Homo sapiens: one gene and its partner. The protein of the gene in region 1 interacts with the protein of each later gene in a pairwise test. Each region holds a gene or a part of one and is shown on either strand. Other genes may lie near its edges.

Region 1 (3,909 bases):
AACACTCACACTCCTGGGGCCTGTCCACACCTATGATTCAGAATACCTAAGACTGGAATACAGGAATACGCATTGTTGACAAGCATCCAAGGTGATTCCTGTGTCCAGTCAAGTGTGGCGGACTCCCCATCCTAAAGGATTCTAAACTCTGGGAGGACTCTTTTGTCCCTCTGGGCTGGAATAGGAGGGGGCCCATCTGGAGCCTGAAATCTGTGTCATAGCCACATGGGAGTCTCAGTCCCCACCCTTTCACCCCCTTCTGCTTTGTCATGTTTCACTCAATAAATCCATCCCAGAGTATTGACTGAAGGCACAGTTGGGAACAGTTGAAATCCCAAATTAGGACCACACCTCCCTGCTAATTCCCCAGAAGGGGAAACTTCCCAGGAGGAGCCCTCACTTCTTTTTGAAGTCTTCCACCAGGTCCTGCATGCTTTTCAGCTCTCCCTCCAGGTTCCCCCTCTCCCCTAGAAGTGAATCTAGCTGCTTGCATAGGAAGCTGATGTAGGATTCAAAACAAGGCTCCAGGCTGCTGGGCCCTGAGCCTGTGGTCTGCTGCTGGAGCAGTTCCCACTTGGTCTCCAGGACCTTGTTCTGCTGTTCCAGGAACCGCACCTGCATGAAAGAGGGGAGAAAAGGAGTCAGCCCCTTGAGTTGGGCATGTGGGGCTGCCCATCCCAAATGTAGAACTGTGGAGAAGGAACCCAGTTCTTCAATCTACAATTTCCCCTGTTTTTTAATTTGGGAAGGATGAAGATTTAGCAAAGGGAGAGCTAGAATTTGTTGAGTGATTATGCCTTACCTGTTATTTTCATGTATTTCCGTCACATTTAATCCTCACAACCACCTATAAAGGAGTTGCTGTGATCCCCATTTTGTAGATAAGGAAACTGAGACTCAAAGAGTTTAAGTTTCCCAAAGTGACAAGTCTACTGAGTGACAAAGCTAAGAATCAAACCCAGGACTGTCCTGGGTCTATAGGGATCCTTCAGAATACCACTGAAGGAGGTAAGCACAAATAAAGTTTGTCATTGTTTTTTAGATGTAAGCTTTTTTCAGCTCCATAAAGGCAGTGAATACAGTCAATGAGGTCTAACATTTCTTTAGAAGTTTCACATAGGAAGACCTCCTTTCAGTTATTCAGCTTGCAGCTGAACTAGAATTCACTTCAGATCCTGGGCTCAGTCCCACACAGACCCAGAACACCCTCCTCTGCCCCAGCATGGACAGCTCAGTTTAATTATTGGCTGAAGCACAGCATCATCTGGAAGGTAAGGCAGCTGCCAATGCACCTCATTTAGATGCAGCCTCAAGATCTGTGCTAACACAAGGTTTTGATTACCAGCTACTTTGGATTATCAAGCAATTGCTTTTCAGGAGAAATTAAAGTAACTGCAATAATTTCATGACTAAAATGGCTCATTCTTCAAAAAGCTAAGAGCATGTTTGGACCCCCACTTCATTTACCCTCATCTCATTCTTAGCAGGAAACCAGGACCAGGAATTCTTCCCCCCATTTCACAGCTGGAAAAAGAAGGCCCAAAAAGTGAAAGGGGCATGATCACTGTCCTGTAGGGACCAAGACAGCACCAGGACAAGAGCCAAGCGCCCCTGCCCTGTGTCTCACAAGTCCCCATGGCATCTTTCTACACCGACCCCTGGGCACCCCAAACCCTCCACAGCACCTCTTGGCCTTGCCCTCACCTTGTCGATGAAGGAGGCAAACTTGTTGTTGAGGGTCTTGATCTGTTCCCGCTCCTGGGCCTTTACTTGCCCAATCTGGGGGTCGATCTCCACATTGAGGGGCTGCAGGAGACTCTGGTTTACAATCACTTCCTGAATTCCCCCAGGAAAGCCCCCAGGGCCAAAGCCACCAGGACCACCAAAGCTGCCAGGCCCACCAAATACACCAGGACCACCAAAGCCACCAGCTCCACCAAAGCCACCAGCCCCTCCAAAACCACTACCTACTCCTCTGCCACCACCAAAGCCACCACCATAGCTGCCCCCAAAGCCACCTCCATAGCCACCTGCAAAGCCACAGCTGCTCCGCCCTCCCCCAAAGCCTCCAGCCCGGGAGCTGCCAGCTGCCACGCTGATGGAGATGCTCTTGTTGCTGCCCAGGTTGTAGAGGCTGCGACTGCCAAAGCTGCCTGCTCCGCTCCTGAAGCCACAGGCCCCTCCACCAGCTCCCCCAGAGCGGGCCACACAGCTCATCCTGCTGCTGCCGGAGACCACAGCAGAGCGGCCAGAGAAACCCTGGCTCCTGCCACTGAAGGATTTCTTGCAAACTTGTCTGTTCATAGTGAGAGAGCTTGGAGGCAAGCTAGTGATCACTTAGCAAGAGCTGAGAGGGATAGGGACAAGAGAGGAGACTGGCCTTTATATAACAGGGAGTTTGGCTTGGCAAAAGGAGAGGCGAGCAATTAGTTGAGAATCATCTTGGGTTTGGTTTGCCTCGTAGGCATTAAGTTACTTCTTGGTTCCCAACACACCTCAGAGATAATCCTCTGGGCCAGAGTGGCTTTGCTTTCTTAGCTTAATCACCTAAACTTGCCTCAGTTGACAAAATGCTGGAGCTCTCCTCCCTCCCTTTTTGTGCTGTCCTCAAGGGTTTCAGGGAACCCAAGCAGCACCTGATCCAGCAGGAGGAAGCAGCTTTAGACACCAGGTGATCCGGAGCCATGAGCTCCCTGACACAGGGGGGTGAGGACCAGGCAACCTCTTCTGAGTGGGCTGGGTCCCTCCCTGCAGCACCACAGTGTCCACAGGCTCCCACAGTGGCTGCGCCCGTCTCTGCCATCATTAGGCCTTTTCTTCCAGTGGCATGTCACCTGTTCCCAACTCTTCAGAGGGCCTGGAGTGGGAGCGGAAGTGAGAGGGGCCCAGACCCATAGAGTCTGCTCTGCCAGCACCTCAGCCAAAGGCATCCATCTCAGCAAACCTGGAGTTTGGGCTGAGAAATGCTACTTATGGGGAAGAAATTACAGTGGAGGTAAACACGTCTAGCTCCTGGAACAGGGAGCAAACAAGTATGAGGTTTGGGAAGAAGAGGGGGCATGCACTGTGGAGAGCCTCAGACCAAGCCCTCCCCCCACCATCCTAGACTGACAGCAGGCAATTTCTGGACCCAGAAGCAAGAGGAGACAGAATCTGGTAACCCTCCAGCTGGCTGGTAGAGTCGGCTCAAGCACCCCATTCATCTTAGGAGGACAGTGTATCTTGTGTCTAGGCCCCAACTCAGATCTTCTGGAGGGGATCCCCTCCCTGCTTTACCCCCTGGTCTGGGTCAGATGCCCCTCCTTGTCTTCCCACCATACCCTGTACTTTTCCCATCGTGAACCTGACATAAAGTATACTTACCTGCTTACTTGTCCATACCCCTCCGGTCCCTGAGCTTCTTGAGGGCAAGGCTTGAGTCCTGCCCATTCTAAATTATCCTAAATGTCCAGCTCCTAGCATAGGGTAAGCACAGCACAAACGTGTTAACTGACTGATGACTGATGTCTAAGAATGCAAATACCTAAAACCAGCTCCCACCCCAGCCCTATGAATGAAAATCTTCAGAGGAAAGGGTTGAGAGTTTGCATTTTTAACAAGCCCTCCAGGTCATTCTTATAATGCGGAAAGTCTGGGAAACCCTGGTCTAGACCATGGCTACACCATATGGGCCAGGAATAGGAGGATGGAGGACCCCTGATGGCAGAACGAATGACACATGATGAGTTACTGCTGTCACTGCCAAGAGCTCAGCAGACCCCAAACCCCATCCAACCCACCTCCGCACCCAAACACACCACACAGGGCAAGACCAAATCCTCAGGTTGTCGTCTGCATAGGAGATTTCACACATATGACAGGAGCAGGTGGCACTGATTCTAGACTCCCTGAGAAATTGGTGGGGGGTCT
Region 2 (3,031 bases), on another chromosome or scaffold:
CCAGGCTTCTCACTGGGCCTCTGCAGGAGGCTGCCATTTGTCCTGCCCACCTTCTTAGAAGGGAGACGGAGCAGACCCATCTGCTACTGCCCTTTCTATAATAACTAAAGTTAGCTGCCCTGGACTATTCACCCCCTAGTCTCAATTTAAAAAGATCCCCATGGCCACAGGGCCCCTGCCTGGGGGCTTGTCACCTCCCCCACCTTCTTCCTGAGTCACTCCTGCAGCCTTGCTCCCTAACCTGCCCCACAGCCTTGCCTGGATTTCTATCTCCCTGGCTTGGTGCCAGTTCCTCCAAGTCGATGGCACCTCCCTCCCTCTCAACCACTTGAGCAAACTCCAAGACATCTTCTACCCCAACACCAGCAATTGTGCCAAGGGCCATTAGGCTCTCAGCATGACTATTTTTAGAGACCCTGTGTCTGTCACTGAAACCTTTTTTGTGGGAAACTATTCCTCCCATCTGCAACAGCTGCCCCTGCTGACTGCCCTTCTCTCCTCCCTCTCATCCCAGAGAAACAAGTCAGCTGGGAGCTTCTGCCCCCACTGCCTAGGGACCAACAGGGGCAGGAGGCAGTCACTGACCCCGAGACGTTTGCATCCTGCACAGCTAGAGATCCTTTATTAAAAGCACACTGTTGGTTTCTGCTCAGTTCTTTATTGATTGGTGTGCCGTTTTCTCTGGAAGCCTCTTAAGAACACAGTGGCGCAGGCTGGGTGGAGCCGTCCCCCCATGAAGTACAGGCAGACAAGTCCCCGCCCCAGCTGTGTGGCCTCAAGCCAGCCTTCCGCTCCTTGAAGCTGGTCTCCACACACTGCTGGTTCCGTCACCCCCTCCCAGGGAAGCAGGTCTGAGCAGCTTGTCCTGGCTGTGTCCATGTCAGAGCAACGGCCCAAGTCTGGGTCTGGGGGGGAAGGTGTCATGGAGCCCCCTACGATTCCCAGTCGTCCTCGTCCTCCTCTGCCTGTGGCTGCTGCGGTGGCGGCAAAGGAGGGATGGAGTCTGACACGCGGACAAAGGCTCCTCCGGGCCCCTCACCAGCCCCAGGTCCTTTCCCAGAGATGCCTGGAGGGAAAAGGCTGAGTGAGGGTGGTTGGTGGGAAACCCTGGTTCCCCCAGCCCCCGGAGACTTAAATACAGGAAGAAAAAGGCAGGACAGAATTACAATGTGCCGGCCCAGGGTGGGCAGCGGCCCTGCCTCCTACCCTTGCGCCTCATGACCAGCTTGTTGAAGAGATCCGACATCAAGTGCCCACCTTGGCTCGTGGCTCTCACTGCAACGGGAAAGCCACAGACTGGGGTGAAGAGTTCAGTCACATGCGACCGGTGGCTCCCTGTCCCCACCCCCATGACACTCCCCAGCCCTCCAAGGCCACTGTGTTTCCTAGTTAGCTCAGAGCCTCAGTCGATGCCTGACCCAGCACCGGGCACTGATGAGAAAGTGGCTGTTTGAGGAGCCACCTCCCAGCCACCTCGGGGACAGGGCCAGGGTGTGCAGCACCACTGTACGATGGGGAAACTGGCCCAGAGAGGTGAGGCAGCTTGCCTGGGGTCACAGAGCAAGGCAAAAGCAGCGCTGGGTACAAGCTCAAAACCATAGTGCCCAGGGCACTGCCGCTGCAGGCGCAGGCATCGCATCACACCAGTGTCTGCGTTCACAGCAGGCATCATCAGTAGCCTCCAGAGGCCTCAGGTCCAGTCTCTAAAAATATCTCAGGAGGCTGCAGTGGCTGACCATTGCCTTGGACCGCTCTTGGCAGTCGAAGAAGATTCTCCTGTCACAGTTTGAGCTGGGTGAGCTTAGAGAGGAAAGCTCCACTATGGCTCCCAAACCAGGAAGGAGCCATAGCCCAGGCAGGAGGGCTGAGGACCTCTGGTGGCGGCCCAGGGCTTCCAGCATGTGCCCTAGGGGAAGCAGGGGCCAGCTGGCAGGAGCAGGGGGTGGGCAGAAAGCACCCGGTGGACTCAGGGCTGGAGGGGAGGAGGCGATCTTGCCCAAGGCCCTCCAACCGCAGGCTCCAGGGCCCGCTCACCTTGCTCCTGCTCCTTCTGCTGCTGCTTCTCCAGCTTTCGCTCCTTCATGCTGCGCAGCTTGGCCTTGCCGATGCCCCCAGCTTGGCGGATGGACTCTAGCAGAGTGGCCCAGCCACCGGAGGGGTCGACCACTTCCCTGGGAGCTCCCTGGACTGGAGCCGGGAGGTGGGGAACAGGGCAAGGAGGAAAGGCTGCTCAGGCAGGGCTGGGGAAGCTTACTGTGTCCAAGAGCCTGCTGGGAGGGAAGTCACCTCCCCTCAAACGAGGAGCCCCGCGCTGGGGAGGCCGGACCTTTGGAGACTGTGTGGGGCCCGGGCACTGACTTCGGCAACCACCTGAGCGCGGGCATCCTGTGTGCAGATACTCCCTGCTTCCTCTCTAGCCCTCACCCTGCAGAGCTGGACCCCTGAGCTAGCCATGCTCTGACAGTCTCAGTTGCACACATGAGCCAGCAGAGGGGTTTTGTGCCACTTCTGGATGCTAGGGTTACACTGGGAGATACAGCAGTGAAGCTGAAATGAAAAATGTGTTGCTGTAGTTTGTTATTAGACCCCTTCTTTCCATTGGTTTAATTAGGAATGAGGAACCCAGAGCCTCACTTGTTCAGGCTCCCTCTGCCCTAGAAGTGAGAAGTCCAGAGCTCTACAGTTTGAAAGCCACTATTTTATGAACCAAGTAGAACAAGATATTTGAAATGGAAACTATTCAAAAAATTGAGAATTTCTGACCACTTAACAAACCCACAGAAAATCCACCCGAGTGCACTGAGCACGCCAGAAATCAGGTGGCCTCAAAGAGCTGCTCCCACCTGAAGGAGATGCGCTGCTGCTGCTGTCGTCCTGCCTGGCGCCTTGGCCTACAGGGGCCGCGGTTGAGGGTGGGAGTGGGGGTGCACTGGCCAGCACCTCAGGAGCTGGGGGTGGTGGTGGGGGCGGTGGGGGTGGTGTTAGTACCCCATCTTGTAGGTCTGAAACACAAAGTGTGGGGTGTCTAGGG

Evidence for each region.
Region 2: the proteins of KRT76 (region 1) and WASHC1 interact in a two-hybrid assay, tested with the Homo sapiens proteins (one large-scale study listed by BioGRID).

The regions. Positions count from the first base shown.
Region 1 is NC_000012.12:52,774,988-52,778,896, forward strand, and holds the start of KRT76 (keratin, type II cytoskeletal 2 oral), read right to left. Parts: upstream 2,359-3,909; 5' UTR 2,305-2,358; coding exon 1,705-2,304; intron 616-1,704; coding exon 401-615; intron 1-400. UniProt on the Homo sapiens protein: Probably contributes to terminal cornification.
Region 2 is NC_000009.12:13,875-16,905, forward strand, and holds the end of WASHC1 (WASH complex subunit 1), read right to left. Parts: intron 3,003-3,031; coding exon 2,844-3,002; intron 2,188-2,843; coding exon 2,035-2,187; intron 1,276-2,034; coding exon 1,207-1,275; intron 1,067-1,206; coding exon 933-1,066; 3' UTR 639-932; downstream 1-638. UniProt on the Homo sapiens protein: Acts as a component of the WASH core complex that functions as a nucleation-promoting factor (NPF) at the surface of endosomes, where it recruits and activates the Arp2/3 complex to induce actin polymerization, playing a key role in the fission of tubules that serve as transport intermediates during endosome sorting.